2 separate regions of the Homo sapiens genome follow, and region 1 is linked to region 2. Evidence: fine-mapped expression QTL. Tissue or cell type: lung. Region 2 holds a variant in brackets; the other region holds the start of a gene. All regions are shown on one strand. Distances are from middle to middle.

Region 1 (10,862 bases), 140 kb after region 2:
TGCTAGGCCGTGAGGGCACCCAGGACGGGGCATGACCCTAACATCACGGAGCTAATGAGGAGATAAGACATGAAATAAGCCCGGCGCGGTGGCTCACACCTGTAATCCCAGCACTTTGGAAGGCCAAGGCGGGCGGATTACCTGAGATCAGGAGTTTGAGACCAGCCTGGCCAACATGGTGAAACCCTACCTCTACCAAAAATACAAAAATTAGCTGGTCATGGTGCAGGGCACCTACTGTAATCCCAGCTACTAGTGAGGCTGAGGCAGGAAAATCACTTGAACCCGGGAGGCAGAGGTTGCAGTGAGTGGAGATGGCGCCACTGCACTCTAGTCTGGGCGACAGAGCAAGACTCCGTCTCAAAAGAAAAAAAAAAGACATGAAATAATTCTGGAGAGGCAGCACGGCATAGAAGATTCATAGAAGAGTCAAAACTCAATTCAATCCTGCCACAAACTTTCTAAATAAACTAAATCAACTCTCTGAAAAACAGAGTTTCCCTCTCTGAGCCTCACTTTCCTTGGTGAAAACAAGGCAAAGGTATTAGATGATGTCTGAGGCCCTGGATAGCTCTGCAATAATTAGATAGAGAATACAAGGCAGTATATAATCAAGTATTAAATTATACAGGAGCAACTACAGCTGCCATTGAGAGCTTGCACTGATTTTTTTTTGAGTCAGCCTTCATTCTAAACCACTTCCTGAAAGCCCACTCAGACCCTGTGCTAGGATTCAGGGATGCAGCGGTCACCAAGACAGAATGCTCTGCCTTCACGAGGCTTTCGCCAGTCTAGTAAGGTATTCTCAGGTGTTCAGAGGAGGGAAAAAATGAGGGCTGGGGTTGGCCTATGACCTTTGCATGGAGACAGAGGCAAAACTGGGCTTCAAGTGGGTATCATCTGAGCATTCAGTGGGGTGATGGACGCAGTGGTTAATTGCTGAGTACGGTAGTAATAAGCCATGAGGTTCTGAACACATAGCACAAGCCCAGTTCTACTAATCCGCTCATCATTAGTGAAGGGAATTAGTTAGCTTCCAGAAGTCAGCCAGACTTCGATTCTTCCGGCCCTCTCCCTAACGTCTCCTTCTCCCACCCCAAACCTGCTAATTGTGGTTAACTTTTTCCCTTTATTCTTTTCAGTTATTCTTGCAGACAACTATGGTGGAGGGCAGGAGCCAGGAAGCAGTTACCAAGGAGGGAGTCCACATCTAAGCAATATGGAGTCAGTCAGGAAGGAAGACCTTGTATGCTACAAGGTAAACGGCTAAAAAGATCGATTTGCGTATTAAGTCACAAGAGAGGTTTAAGAAAGACAGTACAGGCTGAGTGCGGTGGCTCATGCCTGTAATCCCAGCACTTTGGGAGGCTGAGGTGGGTGGATCACCTGAGGTCAGGAGTTTGAAACCAGCCTGCCCAACATGGTGAAACCCATCTCTATTAAAAATACAAAAATGGGCCGGGCATGGTGGCAGGCACCTGTAATCCCAGCTACTCAGGAGGCTGTGGCAGGAGAATGGCTTGAACCCGGGAGGCAGAGGTTGCAGTGAGCCAAGATCGCGCCATTGCACTCCAGCCTGGGGGACAAGAGCGAGACTTCATCACCAAAAAAAAAAAAAAAAAAAAGACCAGACACATGGTTTATTTTAGAGTAGAGCTATGTCTCATACAACTAAGGAATATGGTATAATTTAGCTGGTAAGAATAATTAACCATCCGCATCTTAATTTTTAAAACTAAAATGTCATAAAATTAATTTGTCCCTTATTCTTAAGGGGCATGAAACTTGACTGTGCCCTAAATGAAATCAAATGTTGCCTACCAACAGTACATTCCATTTTCCAAACAACTTCCCTGGAATGCTGGGGAGCTGATATGTTTAAAACGAATATTCTCCAAGTCCAAGTGTTGGATTTTAAAGAACCATAACCTTTCCAACTTTTCCTACAAAAAAATCCCGTGTGTGATTTATGCCCATCTTCAAAACACCCTCTGGAGTTCAGACCAGATGTGTGCAGTGTTTACACTGAGAAAACCACTAGGACATCAACAATTCACTATAAACACCACTCAAATTTTGCTGTGCTTTCCTTCATTTCCTCTGTATTTATTCTGGTGTTAAAATAATGTTAACTCTCATAATAAGGAAAATAGGAGCAGATGTTTAAACCAAACAGACTTCAGCCCATTATCCCATATAGCTACTCAATCTTCAAAATCAAAGTTTCTTCCTCCCAAATACCGAGAGAGAAGAGCAGAGCAGAGCACTCTAGTTTCCTGGGTGTTGCATGCTACACAACAACTCGACCTGGGCTCGCTGTCCGTAAGTTGGTCCTCACCAATCGGAGACAGGAAAAACTAATCTGGTATCAATTTCCTAACAATCTTATATTTCTCTCTTAGGCCATTATGTTTTGTTTTTAAAATATCGTATTACTTGTTGGCAAAGACAATACAACAGAAATTGCCTCAGAAGTTTTTCTTTCTTGTTGGGGGAAGCGGGGATGGTTAAAAAAAAAAAAAACAAGAAAAACAAAACCCTGACTACAATGTGTGAATGTCACGGGAAACAAGCCCAGCAATGGCTGCTTACGGCTTTCTAAAGTCGGCTGCCTTTTTTAAGTGAGTTCAGAAGCAAGATGTTACTTAACACATCAGATGCAAAGAAAGAAATTCACGAAAATTCTCATAGCAGGAACTAGTAGGAGTAAAGAAAAACAAATACTCTTTTTAAAAAACGTTAAATATGAGATCCTCATCCATAGAGTTTTAAAAAACAACGTGAATGAGGGTTGTTGTTGTTTTTTTTCCTTGAAGGGGAAAAATACTCTTGAAAGGGTGAGTTTTCAACTGATTAGGAAACAGGCCTGAAGTTTTTAGATTAAAAAAATACAAGTGAATCACCCTCCCAAGTTTTTGTAACTGTTTTCTTTTTCAAGAGAAATGTCCCGTGTATTATTGGAGAAAAAATGGAAACTGCTCCTGCTGAATGAGAAAGAGAAGAGTCCCGGATGTGTGTGTGGTTACAACAGAAAACACTCTTCCTGCCAGGCCGAACTCCCCCGGAGATGCCCTCGGCGGCAGACCCAGGGCCATTGCCACTTTTTCAAATCGCACGTAGAGGATGTCCGAGGGCTTAAGAAATAGATTTTTCTCTGACTGCTACCAGAGACAGTTGGAAATACAAGACAGTGGGGGAAGCACCTCGCGGGCAGTAGGAGGTAATAAATAACAGTTCGGCGCGGCTCTCTCTTTTTCAGGGCAGGCTGGGGGTCGGGGTGTTGTGTAATCGCTCCCACAGGGAGCGGAGCGCGAGGAACACCCCCCAGTGTCAGCGCTCCCCGGGCTGCACAGGAAGCGCCAGCGAGACAAAGAGCCCGCCTGTGCTCGCTGACACGGTGCCCTTCCGGCCCCACGCGGGAGAGGGACATTCTCCGCTGTTTGGGACGCTCACTCGCGAGCACAAAAACTCGCTGTAACTTTGGCTCCCCCTCCGTGAGCTGCAGGGCGCCGTGGCCCACAGCAGGGTACAGTAGACGGTGCAATCCTTACCAGCCCCTCCCCCAAAGAGGCTCAACTTTTACCGGCGTCCTACAAGTCCTTCCCCTAAAGACAATATTAACGGAAATCAAAAATACATACATTTTAAAGAGTTAAAAATGTGAGGCGCGAGTACGTTGCAAGCAACGAGCAAACTTTGAAGGGTTTCTACTTCACTGCCTCCCCGTCCAGCCCCCTCCACCGCCCCCCGCAGCCTGAGATCCGAACACACTCGGTGCCGAACCGAACCTAAGAAACGCCGGCCTTTCAAGTGCCCTACACCCCGGAGGAGGACAGCGGGCGCTTAGAAGGCAGGCACCCAGCACACTGAGGAGGAGTGGCCGGGACGAGCAACGGGCAGTAATTCTACAACGGGACATCTACCTTCGTAGCACAGAATGCCGATATTGTTGTTCATCTTGTCCAAGTACTGATAGTTCAACAGGTCCATCTTCATAAATAGCATTTATTGGGCTAGCAAAGAAAACCAGCTCTTTGCTTTTGCCCCAAAAGAGTTAAGTTTCAAAAATCAATTGTTGCTGAGTAGCTCCTGGCTCTTCAACTTCACAAAGGCAGAGGCCCAGCCTCAGACTATCAAAACAAAGTATGCAAAAGTTAAAAAAAAAAAAATCAGGCACAAAAAAATCGAGCTCACACGAAACCCTTCAAGGGCTTACTGGTAGACGGTGTATGTACTGTATCCCCGATCGAGTATGAAAACAGCGTTTCAGAAGTCCTTACAAGTCCTTCCTGGAAATGGAAAAGAGTGAAAAAGAGAAACGCGCAGCCCGTTTCCTAGGACAAAGCGGCGCCGGCCCCTCTCACAGCCCGCTGCAAGCCGGCAGCGCTGACATGAGGGCTATGCTTGGCATGACTCCTATGCCGCCGCTTCCTCTTCCCGCAGGAGGCCGAGCATGCTCACTGCGCCGCGCTGCCGAGGCAGGGAGGGCTTCTGCACAGGATCAGCCTCTCAATGTAGCAAGTGTTGGAAAGAAAGAGAAAGGGGAGGGGGAGAGACTCTAGAGACGGGGCCTTGGCAGAGTGGCTCTTGACAGGAAGCAGCCAAGCCGCTGCAAAACCGTAGGAGGAAAAAAGAAAACCCAGGAAGTTTCTTTTTCAGGAGCTAAGTACAAAGTAAAAAATCCATCATGGAAGCAAACTCCCATGGAATGCAACTTTCGTGAAACTTCATGTTGGGGTTTCGGAAACCCAAAGTGCTAGTGATGCATAAGCCATATATATATATATAGTGTCTTTGTTTCTTTTAAAGATTGTTTTATAATATCCATTTACACTTTAACTGGATATTTAAATTTCTGATGTTAATGTTACATATAGCTTCTTCCATAATCCCCATAACAACTGAGATGGACAGGGCAAGGAGGGTATCACCCTTTCACAGCAGAGGAAACAGGTTCAGATGGATTAAATGACTGGCCCACAGCCCCCAAAATAGTTGACAGAACTACTTTTAAAGTGTTTTTTCCCACCTAATGTTATAATTTTATTTAAAAAAACGAGGGGGCCGGGTGTAGTGGCTCACACCTGTAATCCTAGTCGAAGCAGGCGGATCACTTGAGGTCAAGAGTTCAAGACCAGCCTGGCCAGCATGGTGAAACCCCATCTCTACTAAAAATACATAAATTAGCCTGGTGTGGTAGCGCACGCCTGTAGTCCCAGCTACTCAGGAGGCTGAGGTGGGAGAATTGCTTGAACCTGAGAGGAGGAGGATGCAGTGAGCCAAGATCGTGACACTGCACTCCAGCCTGGGCAACAGAGTGAGACTTTGTCTCAAAAAAAAAAAAAAAAAAGAAAAGAAAAAAAGGAGACAAGGAGAGGAGAAGAGATGGAAGAGTGTTTAAGCAAATAGGGCTATAATATCAAAAATTAAAAGTGTACTTGAAATTATAGAGGGAAAGGGTAAAATTATTTTCATTTGGCATGTATGTCACCCACCTGTGTGTAAGAAGCTAGTGGCATGCAGCTGTACTATTTGCTATTGGAAGAACTTGGGGCTTAAACTTTGATTACCCAGTGCCTAGCACAACCAAGTTCAGGTGCCCAAAAACTGTTTACTGAACGAGTGAACCACTGAATGTTCAGTTTTCAGCACATCAAGAACGTGTTAACAAAATAGAAAAAAAAAAAACAAAAACTAAACATTTGAATTACTATTCTAAAAATATATTTTTAATATTCCAAAATAATATTTGAATAAATAATTTGAAGGAGTTGTATGTTAAAAATCCAGCAATAGGCCAGGCGCGGTGGCTCACGCCTGTAATCCCAGCACTTTGGGAGGCCGAGGCGGGTGGATCATGAGGTCAGGAGATCGAGACCATCCTGGCTAACACGGTGAAACCCCGTCTCTACTAAAAATACAGAAAATTAGCCGGGCGCGGTGGCGGGCGCCTGTAGTCCCAGCTACTCGGGAGGCTGAGGCAGGAGAATGGCGTGAACCCGGGAAGCGGAGCTTGCAGTGAGCCAAGATTGCGCCACTGCAGTCTGCAGTCCGCAGTCCGGCCTGGGCGACAGAGCGAGACTCCGTCTCAAAAAAAAAAAAAAATCCAGCAATAGTTGCATTGGGTTTATTAGGCACACTCATGGCAAGGTGTTCTAATGAAATCTTACTTGGGAGTCCGGATGCGGTGGCTCACGCGTGTAATCCCAGCACTCTGGGAGACTGAGACGGGCGGATCACTTGAGGTCAGGAGTTTGAGAACAGTCTGGCCAACATGGTGAAACCCTGTCTCTACTAAAAATACAAAAATTAGCCGGGCATAGTGGCATGTGTCTGTAATCCCAGCTACTAGGGAGGCTGAGGCAGGAGAATTGTTTGAACACGGGAGGCAGAGGCTGCAGTGAGCCAAGATTGTGCCACTGCACTCCAGCCTGGGTGACAGAACAAGACTCCGTCTCAAAAAACAAAACAAAACAAAAAAACTATATGACATCTAAATACTAAATACTGTTGCCGTCATTGCTGCAACAGTAATCACTGGGGTGACATCAGGGGAAGTAAGTAATAGGGGAATCAAGATTTCACAAGCTTTCATTTATAAGAATATTTATTGACACTATATTACATGTAATAAGCTATAGTGAAAGATATGTATCCTATCAATTGTAATTAAAATACTTAATGGTATTTGGTGGGGAGGGTTGAAGAAAACTCAAAACTCGTAACATCCAGTATACATGAGATCATTGCACTGAAAACAAACAATATCAGGTATCAGATTTAAATTTAACTGATAGTTTTGGAGTACTCTTACTGTGCTACGTTTTTACATAAATTCTCAATCAGAAAACTTTATCCATCATTGTCCCACATGGAAGAGAGGTGGCTGCACATTAGAACCAGGGGGGAGCTTTTAAAAATCTTGCTGCTGAGGTTGCATCCCCAACTCATCTGAGGTGGGAACCAGCAGCAGTAGCTTCTAAAGTCCCAGGTGATTCCAATATGCAGTCAAGGTTGAGAACCATTGCTTTCATCTAGGGAGGAAAAAAAAAAAAACCCTGCCTTAAGATATTTCATTTTATTCACTTATTTTGACATGAAGAATTTTTTTAATAGTAATTTAAGCAAATGATTCAAACAATACCATTGTAGAAAATGAATAAAATATTTGGTAACGTCCCTTAAGGGACTCAGCATCACTTAGAACAGCAGTTCTCAGCCTCCGGGTGGCAACCATTTTCGTGGACACCGTCTCACAGGTCTACCTTGACTATTGTAACATTCCCAGCCACAGCCACCACGTCTTTCCCGCTGATCCGGGAGGCTAGCACGGTGCTACCCAAGTGTGATCCAGAGGGGTTCGAGCACCAGGTGTTCCTAGTCCCCAAAAGCTAGATACAGAAACGGAGAATGAACATTTAAAACTTTTATAGCAATTCGATAGACTAATTTTATGTCTCTCAAATCTTAATATTAAAGAAATTTGAGGGCTGTAGTTTTCGTATTTCTAGTTATAGGGCTGCATTACATTTTATAAACTATCAGTCTGCAACAAAGTCTTGGGGAAAAATGAAACAAACCTGGTTTCACAGAGAAGCTTGTGCTCCAGAGGGGCCAGCTACAACAGCCCGCCTCTGCAGGCTGGGAGCGCCTCCTGGACCGGCTCTAGGCCTTTCCATCCCAGCTCCTGACAACTTTCACCTTAGTTTCAAGCACACTGGATGACCTGCAGTGAGTTATTCCACAAAGCACATCAGTATGCTTCTCGGTGTGCAGGACGTCTCTTCTTTCCCAACCTGTCTACTCAGCAAACATCCACTCTTCCTTGAGACTTGTCAGAAAGCCCCTCTTGTCCTGTGAAATCTCCCTACGATCCCATCCTACCATCTCCTCACACCCTACGCCAAGCTATCCTTTTACAGGGTAAGTAGTCCTTATCCAAAATACTTGGACCAGAAGTGTTTTGGATTTCGGACCTTCTTGGATTTTGGAATAGTTGCATTATACTTACCAGTTGAGCATCTCTAATTTTAAAGTCTGAAATCTGAAATGCTCCAATATGAGCATTTTCACCTGAATGTTGTGTCAGCACTCAACACTGTTCAGATTTTGGAGCATTTTTCATTTCAGATTTTTGGATTAGGACGCTCAACCCATACCTTATATGTGCTTCTTTCCTAGCCTAGATCTTCGGAGCAAGGACTATGCCTTCCTCACCTTTTCGAGGTCAGTCTGGCAGAAGTCTGGCAGAAGCCTGGCGCATGGTAGGCCATCAATAAATACCAGCTGAATAAAATCAGTAAACATCTAAACGGCAGATTCTTCATTTCCCCATCCCTACTTCCAGCACACTCTGGATTATCTTACTCGATGTCATTAGGTGGCTGTCAACATCTCTTGGAGACCACAGGTCCTTGCCTTTAAGAAACACCATGTAGATTCTGATTGTACTTCAGGGTACAATCAGCTCATCCATAAAAAAAAAAAAATACTAGAAAATATCAATCCTTCTCAGATTCATTCATAGGATAATATATTCATAATTAAAGTAGCAACAGGATAGTTTTGTAGGGAATTGGAAAGATGGGTCTAAATTTTATCCACACACACAAATGAGATGGGAAAAGCTAGTTCTTTTTCTACGAATGAATAAGTTTGATCTATCAAATATTTAAAACATAAAGCAAAGAATATATTTTGGAGTGTTACTGGGTAGAGACTAGGTAGGACCAGACAGATACTGTGGATATAGGAATCAGAAATCCAGGCCAATGGGGAAGAAGTGGATTACAAAACAAACATTACTGAGAAAAGAATCCAGATAGCACTTTGCCTTATACTGTACATCAAAATAAATCCCAAATGTTTTAAAGATTATTTAGATGCTTTTAAAGTAAGGTTTTTGCTGCAAAAACTTACAAAACTATAAGGATATGTTCAGACTATCTGATGTGGAATAGGAAAACATTTGCTAAGCCAGAAATAAAATTTTTAATCAAAGACAGAAGCCACCAAGGAAGATGTAGAATTTGATTGAGAATACAGATTTTATGCTTTTATACATCTAAAAACACCAAAACCAAGTAAAGGCAAAATACAAAACTGAAGAATATATTTGTGTCATATATTACAGTGAAGGATAAATGTTCTTGGTATTCAAAGAACATTTAAAAATAGAAAGAACAAAGGAAAAAATTGAAAAACCACTTGATCTGAATAACATTTTTTAAGAGCATGAGAAACAAATGGCCAACACATTTTTGAAAAACTATTCAACCTTACTAATAATCAAAGAAATATAAATTTTAAGTGATTTTCCAGCTACCAATTTAACAAAAAGACTTTTTCAATCTTATTTCTTGCTGGTGAAACAGGATGCCATTGGAATCTTTGCTCACTGCTAATGCAGTATAAACAGATAACGCCTGTGTATAAAGCAGGTTGGCACACACTAGACTGTTTTATGAAAAATGTCCATGCCTTTGTCCTTGCCTTGGACTCTACTTCTAGACTTCTGTCTTAAGAAAATAAGATTTGAAGAGTTTCATAAAGATGCTTATCATACAGCTATGTGTAAAATGAAAACCTGAAAACCTAAAGTCCAAATAAAAGGATGCATTAAAACCGTGGCTTATCGATGACAGACTATTACGCAGCCATTACAACACCTTCAATAATCTATAATGACATGAGGAAATGCTATGCTATATACTGTGTGACAGTACTACATTTGTTAACTGAAAACAATAAAAATCGGATATAAAACTAAAACACACATTATTCACCAACTGTGCTAATGTATTTATGAAAACATACATATATATATAGGAAAAAGTATACATTAAAAAGACTGGAAAGTATTCCAAAATGTTAATAGTGCCCATCTTTGAATGGTGGGCATTTTTTCCATTTTCCTGAATTTCTAACTAGCCTACAAATAGTTTATTCTTCCTATAATGAAGATGCGGATAAGGAAAGTTCTTGATTTTTAAAAAGCAGCAACACAATGAAATAATATTCCCTGGTGAGACATAAGCAATGGATATGTATATCTTATTATAGCTTACATATCTCATGATATCTCCTTTTGATTTGGGTTTAACAACTTAAAAATAATAAGAATCCAAACATTTCTTTAGAACTTTGGAACATTCAAAGATGTTTAAGATGGGGTATCTGTCTCAAAGAGCAAAATTGACAGAGACAGCTCTACACTTGCAGAGCTTATAGACATGTGTACGTGCTTTTTATCTTCTACTGCTTACTAATTATGTCATATGTCAGTACCAATTCCCCCAAACTAGACCATAAGCTTCTAGAGGGAAGGAAAGCTAAGCCTCAGTCCTTAGAGTAAAACTCCCCCACAGCACACAAGTGCTCTATTTGGTTTGGTTTGGTTTGGTTTGGTTTGGTTTGGTTTGGTTTGGTTTGGTTTGGTTTTTTTGAAACAGGGTCTCCCTCTATTGCCCAGGCTAGAGTGCAGTGGCTCAATCACAGCTCACTGCAGCCTTGACTTCCCAGGCTCAAGTGATCCTTCCAACTCAGCAGGACCACAGGTGCATGCCACCGTGTCTGGCTAACTTTTTTTTTTAATCATTTTTTGTAGAGACAGGTTCTCACTGTGTTACCCAGGCTGGTCTTGAACTCCTGGCCTTAAGCCATCCACCCGCCTCGGTCTCCCAAAGTGCTGGGATTACTGGCATGAGCCACCACGCCTGGCCCAATAAGTGCTTTATAAATGTTAATTATGGTTGTGCCTCAGCATCTTTGTGGAATAATGGCAATATGACGATAGAAGAAAGCCCAGGCTAATTACTAGGCTGATCTGTTTAATTAGCTAGAGGTTTGACTACCACTTTAGA
Region 2 (10,862 bases):
TCTACTAAAAATACAAAAAATTAGACAGGTGTGGTGGTGCACACCTGTAGTCCCACCTACTCGGGAGGCTGAGGCAGGAGAATCGCTTGAACCGGGAAGGCAGAGGTTGCAGTGAGCCAAGATCATGCCATTGCACTCCAGACTGGACAACAAGAGCGAAACTCCATCTCAAAAAAAAAAAAAAAAGAAACAAAAAATCTAAAATATCCCATGGTGCAGATTCACTGCAGTGCCCAGGGCACCTCCACACGCAGTTTGGGAGCCACAGTGCTAGCTGTTACACAGGTGTAGTATCATACCAGTCTTGTGCATCCCCCAAGATGCATTGGGCAATGCAGTCCTCATAGTAGGTGGCCAACAAATATTTTATGAGCATCTTAATCCTTATTTCCTGATGGGCCACAAACGCCACAAGTTCAGGAGTGTTCTGAGTTCCCTGGTCCAGCAATAATTCAAATAAAATCCATTTTAACATCTTCTGGGGATGCTGTAAAGGATATATCTGTACTGAGTGGAGGTTGGCTTAGATGACCTTTTAATTCCCTTCCAGGGCTAATGCTCTTTAATTCAATAGCAGCAACGCGCAACATAAAGAACAATATGAACACAGTTGTATGGCAGTGGTGAGGATGTAATGTCTCAAACCCCCATGCCAAAATATTAAAAATTTGAATTCTAACATGTAGAATTTGGTTGGAGTAAGGAGGTGGAGACATAAAACTGCTGTTTAGTTAATATGATATTAATGTATTAATTGATGAACCTTCTTAGTTGCCACAAAAATTGATCATATCGAGTAGGACACCAAGAAAACCACAGTAAATGCCAAAAAAATAGAAGTAACAATAACATATCTGATCACTATGCAATACAACTAAAAAATACAAATTAAAAGACTAAAAACTAGAAAATAAAACTCCACCATTGGGAAATTTTAAAACTCCCCTTAGGTCAACAAGAAAATCAAAACCAAAATTCTAGGCCATGTAGAAAATGATGTGAAAGTTCTACACGTAAAATTTTTGAGTATAGATAATACAGTGCTTAGGAAAATTCTTCAACTTAAGGTTTTTTTGTTTGTTTGTCTGAGACGGAGTTTTGCTCTTGTTACCCAGGCCGGACGTCTCACTGCAACCTCCACCTCCCAGGTTCAAGCAATTCTCCTGCCTCAGCCTCCAGAGTAGCTGGGACTACAGGCGTGCGCCACCACACCCAGCTAATTTTTGTATTTTTACTAGAGACGGGGTTTCACCATGTTGGCCAAGATGTTCTCGATCTCCTGACCTTGTGATCTGCCCATCTTGGCCTCCCAAAGTGCTGGGATTACAGGCGTGAGCCACTGCACCGCCCAACCTAAGTTTTTGTATAAATAACAGAAATGAATGAAAATAATAGGGCCGGGCATGGTAGCTCACCCTGGTAATTTCAGCACTTTGGGAAGCCAAGGTGCGAGGATCACTTGAGGCCAGGAGTTCAAGACCAACCTGGGCAACATAGCAAAATGCTGTCTCTACTAAAAATAAAAAATTGGCCAGGTATGGTGATACGCACCTGTAGTCCCAGCTACCTGGGATGCTGAGGTGGGAGGATCACTTGATCCTGGGAAGTTGAGGCTGCAGTGAGCCATGATTGTGCTACTGCACTCAGCCTGGGCAACAGAGTAAGACCCTGTCTGAAAAGAAAAGAAAATCATAGAAATTTTGTATCATGCTTAGGGAGTTATAAGAGGAACAAGAAAATTAACCCAGGGATATCAGAAAACCTGAGAAAAGTGCCTAATATATAGAAAGCAGTTAGTAGATACTAGCTGTTATTATTTGTCAGAAGGACTGAGAAGTTTCTATTTCAGTGTTATTTTTGAGTGGTACAGAAAAATCTACAGTGTTACATTTAGAAAGTAAAGTTCATTTTTGAAACAGTTGAGGAAATTTAAGTACGGACTCCATATTATTAATAGATAATGATATTAATAGATAGGTGTGATAATGTTATTATGGTTGTATAGGAAAATGGTTACATAGTAAATTATGTATTATGGTTGTATAAGAAATTCCCTTTATTCTCAGGGAATATATGCTGATATATTCTGAGGTTAAGTATCATGATGTCTGCAATATACTTTTTATTTTTTAGACAGAGTCTCCCTCTGTTGCCCAGGCTGGAGTGCAGTGGTGCGATTGTGGCTCACTGCAGCCTTCGCCTCCCGGGTTCAAGTGATTCTCCTGCCTCAGCCTCCTGAGTAGCTGGGATTACAGGTGTGCGCCACCACATCCGGCTAATTTTTGCATTTTTAGCAGAGACGGGGTTTCACCATGTTGGCCAGGCTGGTCTAGAACTCCTGACCTCAGTTGATCCCCTGCCTCGGCCTCCCAAAGTGCTGGGATTACAGGCGTGATCCTGGGTTTACTTTTGATCCCTCTTGAAGCTTCCTAAAATGGTAGTAAACATATATACACACATACACACATATGTTTATATATATGTTTGCTGTCATGTAAAATAACAGTAACATATGTCATTTATGTGATATATGCAAAACTCTGAAGGATAATGAGAGAATAAAAGTACAAACAAGAGCAACAAAAATTTTGGATCCTGAAAAGATGGACAAGAACGTTAAATTCTTTTTTTTTTTAATTTTAATTTATTTTTTATTATTATTATACTTTAAGTTTTAGGGTACACGTGCACATTGTGCAGGTTAGTTACATACGTATACATGTGCCATGCTGGTGTGCTGCACCCACTAACTCGTCATCTAGCATTAGGTATATCTCCCAATGCTATCCCTCCCCCCTCCCCCCACCCCACAACAGTCCCCAGAGTGTGATGTTCCCCTTCCTGTGTCCATGTGATCTCATTGTTCAATTCCCACCTATGAGTGAGAATATGCGGTGTTTGGTTTTTTGTTCTTGCGATAGTTTACTGAGAATGATGGTTTCCAATTTCATCCATGTCCCTACAAAGGACGTGAACTCATCATTTTTTATGGCTGCATAGTATTCCATGGTGTATATGTGCCACATTTTCTTAATCCAGTCTATCATTGTTGGACATTTGGGTTGGTTCCAAGTCTTTGCTATTGTGAATTGTGGCATTATTCACAAGAATGTTAAATTCTAAGCCAACCAGTAGAGAAAGCCAGTATTTCCCATAGAGCCTCCTGAAGACTTGGATTTGGGACTATAGATGCATCTGAAAGTGTGAAGTATGGGGCTTAAATAGGAGAGTTGGTTGAACTTCCTAAGAAGCAATTAGATCCCCAGGCCCCCACCTTAGCTTTTGTGCAATAGGACAGACAACTGCCCTCTCTTATTCCATTTTGGAAACTGAAAGTTTGCTTTCTGTTAAGGGTAAAACAGGCTTTTGGATTAGGATACACCAGCCAGAGTTGAAAGTAGCGTGTATACCACTGAAAATATGGGATTAAATGAATGTTTACATACCAGATACAGGGGTATCCAAGCTTCTCCCCACACTAGGATCCAACAACACAGGTGGTCAGGCTCAAATACCTTCCAGGCAGGAGAGTGGGCAGTCCTTCTCCAGAGCCTCTGACCAGCTCAAAAGAGCAGTTGTCGGGGGCTCTTTGAATGACAGTCGGCCAGATGACCCTATACTGAAGGCCATAGTGGACTTCAGACAGCTTCTGAGTACCTTCTCCTTAAGTAGGAGCAGAAACCAAGTATTCCCAGATGTCTAACTCAAAAAAGACTAGACTAAATTTGAAGGAAAAAAGACAATGTAAGGAGATAAAAATGTTACATGTCCCAAAAAATTCTACTATCATTTATGTTCTCAGTAAGAACATATAATATGTACATATATCTTATCCCTCAGTGAAAGAGGTACTACATTCATGAAACAAAAAATGCTATTAACAAAAAAAAGGATATTCAGGCCGGGCGCAGTGGCTCACGCCTGTAATCCCAGCACTTTGGGAGGCTGAGGTGGGCAGATCACGAAGTCAGGAGGTCAAGACCAGCCTGACCAACATGATGAAACCCCATCTCTACTAAAATACAAAAATTAGCTGGGCATGGTGGCGCGTGCCTGTAATCCCAGCTACTCAGGAGGCTGAGGCAGGAGAATCGCCGGAACCCAGGAGGCGGAGGTTGCAGTGAGCCAAGATCACGCCATTGCACTCCAGCCTGGGCAACAGACCGAGACTCTGTCTCAAAAAAAAAAAAAAAAAAAAAAATCAAATGATTAAAAGTACTCTTAGAAATTAAATATATAAGTTTAAAATTCAGTAGAAGGATTAGACAGTGAAATTTAGACTATCTTCCAGAAACTAAGCAAAAAGACAAAGAAATGGAAAATAAGGGAGAAAAGATGAAAAGATGGATCAGGCTAGAAGCAATATTCAAATAATAGAGTTTGCGGAAAGGAAAACATAGAAAACAGGCCAGAAAAAATAAGGAAGAAATTAAAGGCAGTTACCCACAATTGAGAGAAACAAATGTCTCCATTGAGAGAGTCTACCAACTGCCCAGAACAGTAGATGAGACTAGACCAACACTAAGGTTCATCATAGTGAATTTCAAAACAGTGGGAACAAAAGACAGTCGAGAGGGGGAAAAAAGTTGATATACAAAGAATAAAAAATCAGAGTTGTTTTTGGACTTCTGAATAACTACACTGGAAACTGGAAATCAATGCAACAA[T/C]GCTTTCAAACAATAAAGGGAAATTATATCTAATCTACAAGTCTGTATCAAGCCAAACCGCTCATTGAATATGAACATAGAATAGATACTTTCAGATACACAAGATCAGATAAACAAAACATTTGTCTCCTAGTCACCCTATGCAAACCATTGGAGGATGAACTCCAGAAAAGTAAGAGTAACCAAGAAAGGGAAAGAGATGGAATATAGGGAATGGGAGATCCCACAAAGGAGAGATTGAAAGGCATCCTCAAAACAGTAGCGAAGGGAAGCCTGGGGTGGCAGCTGGGCCTGAAGCACTGAGGATGACTAGAACAGACTGGATCCAGGCCAGAGGGCTCTAGGACAGATTGTGTTAAGATGAAATGGCTTGAATACCTAATGTGTCTGAACATATATTTAGGAGGTTTAGACAGTTGGCAGAGAGTTTGCGATTAAATTATTGATAAGTACATAGAGACAAAGTAGAACAACAGAAAAGACAGTTGTTAATTCCAGGGAAAACAATGTTGTACAAGAAAGAATAAGTAATCCTAGTATATTACATGGCTTACCTAGATACAGCAATTAAACAGTCAAAATAATGTCAACACTGGATGTAGATCTAACCAAAATTATAGTATAATTATGTTGAAATGGTGGAAAGATAGGGAGGCAAGAGTTTGCCATGACAGGGGTAAGGGGGCTCACAGCAGTGAAAGAGCCAAATCCTCATTTACCGAGCAAAATGGGAAATATATATAATGCCTAAACCTGAAAAGATCGAGAAGTCAAGAGGTGACAATATGAGCACGTTATTTTAACATACAGAGGTAACTAAAAGTATCAGGTAAGTCTCTACGGAGTATAGTATGGAAGCTGGGAGCCTGTTAATTTTCATAACAAGCCTTGGAATTATTTGGCTCTTTAAACTATGTTCATACATAATTTTACTCAAGTGAAAACGTTTTAAAAAGAACAAAAGTGCTATGAGAATGGGCAGACTGGGTTTTTAAAGGACGAGTAGGAGTTCTATAGGCCTAGGGAATGGAGGAGTGTTCGCGCAGGTAGAGAAAAGAAGACTAGCGGTAAGCCAGGTGTATCCTGGCTCTAAGGAAGCTTGGGATGTAGGATATAGTCACACTTAAGTATATGGGCTTTTCTCCCTTGGTGTCTGTGTTGTTTAGAATTGAAGACATGGACCTTTTGTTACTGATAAAATTATAACCTATTACTATTTTTGGTTATTGTTTTAACATAACATTATTCTTTGAATTGATCTCAAAGAGAGGAAAATGAGAGGTCACTGAAATGACCCTGGCAGTAAAATTTGCTGAAAAGCAGCGTCCTTTACAAGTCCTTACCTCCGACCGCAAAAGAGTCTTCTAAAGACCACTCTCAGCCCTCAAGGGTCCTTGCAAGTCAGTGACACCACAGGAAATGGGAACCTTGCCAAGAATTAGGGAAATTCAGGTGTCTGCAAGTCCCTAAACCCTAGGGCCAAAAAAAGGATTTGGCAGATGTTTGTGTGTCCTGGAGGCAGATGGATGAAAGTATCAGTAGGCTCCGTGGCTTAAGTGCTAGTCAGTGCTCGCCATTGGTCTTTTGCAGTCTTGTCACTTCTGTCTGGAGGCATTCAGAGAGCTGAAAGGTACACAGTGCAGTGGTAACATCTGGAATTGACCCCTGGCTCCACCATCTTCATGATTAGTAAAGTCACTAAGCCCCTTTGAGAGCAAGATCAAGGCAGTCACAGTCACAGGGGCATTATGAGTATCACGTAAAGTCATGTATTCATATATGGGAATGCTTTGTAAATAGAACATTTCTGTATAAATCTTGCTTTCAGTTAGTGAGTTTGTGTATTTTTTGAGTTGGTCTCTCTGTAAATGTGCCTTCTTTCCCTAGTACATTTATTATTACTGAGTCCAGGTACGTTTGTGTATTAGTTAAGGTATAGGCTAAGGTACTATAATAGACCCCAGAATATCACAGTTTAAACATGGTAGAAATTTGTTTCTCCATGTAACAGTCTAGAGCTGCACCATCCAGTGCGGTGGCCACTAAGCACATTTGATTATTTAAATGTAATTCGAGCAAAATAAAAAGTTAACTGCCTCAGTTGCACTGGCCGCATTTCAAGTGCTTAGTAGCCTCTTGGCTAGAGGTTACTGTATTGGACAGCACAGATAAAACATTTCCATCATTGGTTGGGTGTGGTCATCCTATGTGCTTATGCGTATCAGCACTTTGGGAGGCCAAGGTGGGCAGATCACTTGAGGTCAGGAGTTTGAGACCAGCCTGGTCAACATGGTGAAACCCCATCTCTACAAAAAAAAAAAAAAAAAAAAAAAAAAAAAACCCAAAAATTAGCTGGGAGTGGTGGCAGGTGCCTGTAATCCCAGCTACTCAGGAGGCTGAGGCAGGACAATCACTTGAACCCAGGAGGCAGAGGTTGTGGTGAGCTGAGATTGTGCCACTGCACTCCAGCCCGAGTGGCAGAGCGAGACTCTGTCTGAAAACAAAACAAAGCAAAAAAATGCTTCCATCATCACAGAAAGTTTAGTTGGGCAGCCCTGGTCTAGAGGAGTGGTCTAGAACTTGATGGGTGCTCTGCTGTACAAGGTCATCCACAGGCCTGAGTTCCCTAAATATTATTGCTCTGCCATTCCCTAGGTAAGGATTCATAGCATTTTTTGTGCCATGGATCACTTTACAGAGTGACAAAGGCTAGGGACCACTTCACAGACTAATGCTTTTAAATGTGCAAAATCAGGCTGGGCGCAGTGGCTCATGCCTGTAATCCCAGCACTTTGGGAGGCTGAGGCAGGCAGATCACTTGAGATCAGGAGTTTGAGAACAGCCAGGCCCAACATAGTGAAACCCCGCCTCTACTAAAAATACAAAAATTAGCCAGGTGAGGTGGCACGCACCTGTAGTGCCAGCTACTCAGGAGGCTGAGGCAGGAGAATCGCTTGAACCCAGGAGGCGGAAGTTTCAGTGAGCTAAGATCACACCACTGCACTCCAGCCTGGGAGACAGAGTGAGACTCCATCTCAAAATAAATAAATAAAAATTTTGTTTAAATGTGTAAAATAAAACACAGAGTTACAAAGGAAATTAATTATGTTGAAATACAATTATCAAAGTATTTTAAAAACCCAAAATTTATGACATAGTAATATGTACTTTATTAATACATCAAATAATGATCTAGTGTCAATTCTAAAGGCTATTTTTGTAATTCCAAAGTAGTGATGAGTATTTGTGATATTTCAAGACAATCCATAAGTATAATGTGATATGAAAATACCTATAATTTCTGTTATTGACAGAGTCATGGACACTGCTAATAATGTGGTTTGTTCCCTCCATTATAAGTGAAGGAAATGCTAAAGTTATGGGTGTTTTTTGTTTTTGTTTTTGTTTTTGTTTGTCCTTCCAAATTTAAAGACCAGTGAATTCTATTCATGGACTCCTTGAGGGTCTGAGGACCCCAGGGTTAAGAAGCCCTGCTGGGAATTATTAAAGCTAGCCCAGCAATTTTAAGTCCACACTCTAGATGTGGGAAGGAAGAGAGGAAATGGAAGGCAACCATTTCCTGCTTAAAGGACTGGACCTGGCAGTTGCTCACATCCCATCTCATTGGCCAACATTAGTCACATGGGGTGTAAGGCATGCTGGGAAACACAGTCTGTAGTTGGGCAACCCTGAACCTTGCTGGTAATTAAAAAAAAAACAAAAAAACAAAAAACAAAACAAAACTGGGAGAGTTCCATCAGTAAAAGGAAGAAGGGAAGAATGGCTAGTAGGATAAACAACAGCCTCTACCACAGCTTGGCTCATCTCTATGGAATTAAAACAAAAGTGTTTTTTCAAAAATGTGCTGTTTACTCTCCGACACTTTGTATACCTTCAGGTCTACAGCAGATGTCAACAGGAAGCATTTCACTCTTACTAGCTATGGACAGGCCCCTATGGTGGTGCCAGTTCGTGAGGCACACAGTGTCTAAGGTGGGGGGGTGTCCAATCTTTTGGCTTCCCTGAGCCACGTTGGAAGAATAATTACCTTGGGCCGCACATAAAATACACTAACGATAGCTGATGAGCTTAAAAAAAAAAAAAAAGAAAAAATTCATACTGTTTTAAGAAAGTTTACAAATTTGTGTTGGGCTGCATTCAAAGCCATCCTGGGCCACATGCGTTAGACAAGCTTGGTCTAAGGGATATAGCTTTATTTTTTAAATAAGAGACAGAGTCTTGCTCTGTGGCCCAGGCTGGAATGCAGTGGCCTGATCATAGCTCACTGCCTACCACAAATTCCTGGGCTCAGGTGATCCTCCTGCTTCAGCTTCCGAAGTAGCTGGTGTACCACCATGCCTGCTAATATTATTATTATTTTCTTGTAATAGAGACAGTGTCTCACCATCTTGCCCAGGCTGGTCTCCAACTCTTGGGCTCAAGTGATCCTCCTATCTTGCTTTCCCAAAGCGCTGAGATTACAGGTGTCAGCTACCATGCACAGCCCTATGTAGCCTATTTTGAACTAATAATCCTCAGTTCTGTGCCTGTAGTTGCTGACAGAGCCAACACTTCACAAGTGTTGGCTTCTGAAGTGTGTTTGTCTCTTGCTTAAAGCAAACTCGGTACAACGTGATCTGCACTTACAAAACTAATAACAAATTAATAACAAATTAGATCTCTGCTCCTGTTACCAATGACCAATATTCTATGTGCAAGAGAGCATAAGTAGAAGGAGACAGACTTTTTCCAAACAAACAGATCCCTTGAGCAAATGCCCTTTAAACTTTAAAATAACAACCCCCTTGGGTTGTGCAGGCCTTTAACTTTTCAGAGAGCTTTAAGTACCTTAACTCTTCTTATTTTATTAAAACACCCAGGTCATGGGTTGGTTTTTTTTCTTTCCAAGTTAGTTAAATAAATAAGCAATTATGACGCAGCGCCACATGGCCAACAGCTTTTAGCTTATAAACATAGAGTTTGAAAAGCAGTACTTAGAGGCCAACTTGGTTGGCTGCTGCCGGCAGGAGGGAGCCGAGCTGTTCCCGGCCCAGATAACACTTAAAGGGCCAGGCAGGCCCTCATGCATGCACATTTGTCTACATCCAGGGAGCTGTTTTTTTTCTGATGCAACATGAATTTCAGTGTGGTTTTTTTTTTTTTTAAGTGCCAAATTGTGAGCTCCTGATGGCCAGCCACTTGTGTCTTATAAGCCTCCACAAAGCCTGGTGCAACTCCTTGTATGTCACAGACATAGACATGTTTGCTGACAAATTGTTTGTATTTTATGAGCGTTTATAATGGCCTTTTAAGTAAGTGACGTTTTAGAGTTTGCTGAATGAAGAGTGATTTTTATTTAGTCTCAGAGGCACAGTTGTTTGGTGTGGTTGGTTTTTTTTGGCCACCCCTCCCCCAATCTATCTCTAATTTTAAGATGTGATTCACTAGGAAAATATGATTCTGTTAATTGAATTCATTTTATAGCCAACTTTTCAGGAACCTATCTATTTCTGTAAAGTGAGAGCCACTTGTAAATGTACCGTTTGGTGCCAGCACTCAAATTTTCCCTGACTCAGTTGCTCCAGTGGTGTTTAAATATCTTCCCATAAATCAGGCAGCCAGCGCTCCATACTTATTTACTGGGTCTTGTGATTCAGCCCAGGATCCTGATAGTGATCTTGGATGGGTGATATAAATAGACTAGGATTTGCCAATGGCTATTTTTATCAGGGAAGCTTTCTAAGTTGATTTCTTTGAACCCAGAACAACTTCCTCCCTCTGGCTTCCCCTGTTTTCCTCCAAGACTAGGGAGATCCTTTCTTTATTCTGCCCGCCCATCTTCTGCCCCTCCCCCAGCCAGCTGGTGTCTGCAGAAATTAGAAGGAAGGTACGTGCCTGACACAGAGTTGCCTGAAATCATATATCTTTACCCCCTTTCAGGATCATCTTTCTTTCATCCGGCCCAAGAATGGCACCTTCCCCGCCCATCAGGCCACCTGCACTCAGGAGTCGGCTGCCTGTCCTGAAATAGATCTCTACCAGCTCTCAAGCAGAACAATTCCTTGCATTCATACTTGAATGTATAATTTGTGTTATTACCTCTTATTTGTCTTTGTAAGTTTGTCCCTGCCCCAGTTTAAAAAAAAAAAAAAATCTGAGTTACTGCTACTGAACCAAAGGGCCTCATTCGAGGTC

The links. PIP is the estimated chance that this variant, and not a neighbour inherited with it, causes the effect.
Region 1: VGLL4 starts here. The variant in region 2 is fine-mapped to the expression of VGLL4 in lung (TOPMed, PIP 0.97).

Annotation. Positions count from the first base shown.
Region 1 is chr3:11,639,514-11,650,375 of GRCh38, forward strand. It overlaps VGLL4 (vestigial like family member 4), which reads right to left and starts at 4,402. Exons shown (of 5, transcript NM_001128219.3): 1 at 3,924-4,402. The coding sequence starts at 4,005. RefSeq lists enhancers at 1-441, 2,986-3,355, 4,546-4,625.
Region 2 is chr3:11,499,578-11,510,439 of GRCh38, forward strand. All of the region lies in intron 20 of ATG7 (autophagy related 7), which reads left to right. Among named protein-coding and RNA genes, the nearest start is that of VGLL4, 140 kb to the right of the region's middle. The variant T/C (reference allele first, on the strand shown) is at 4,668.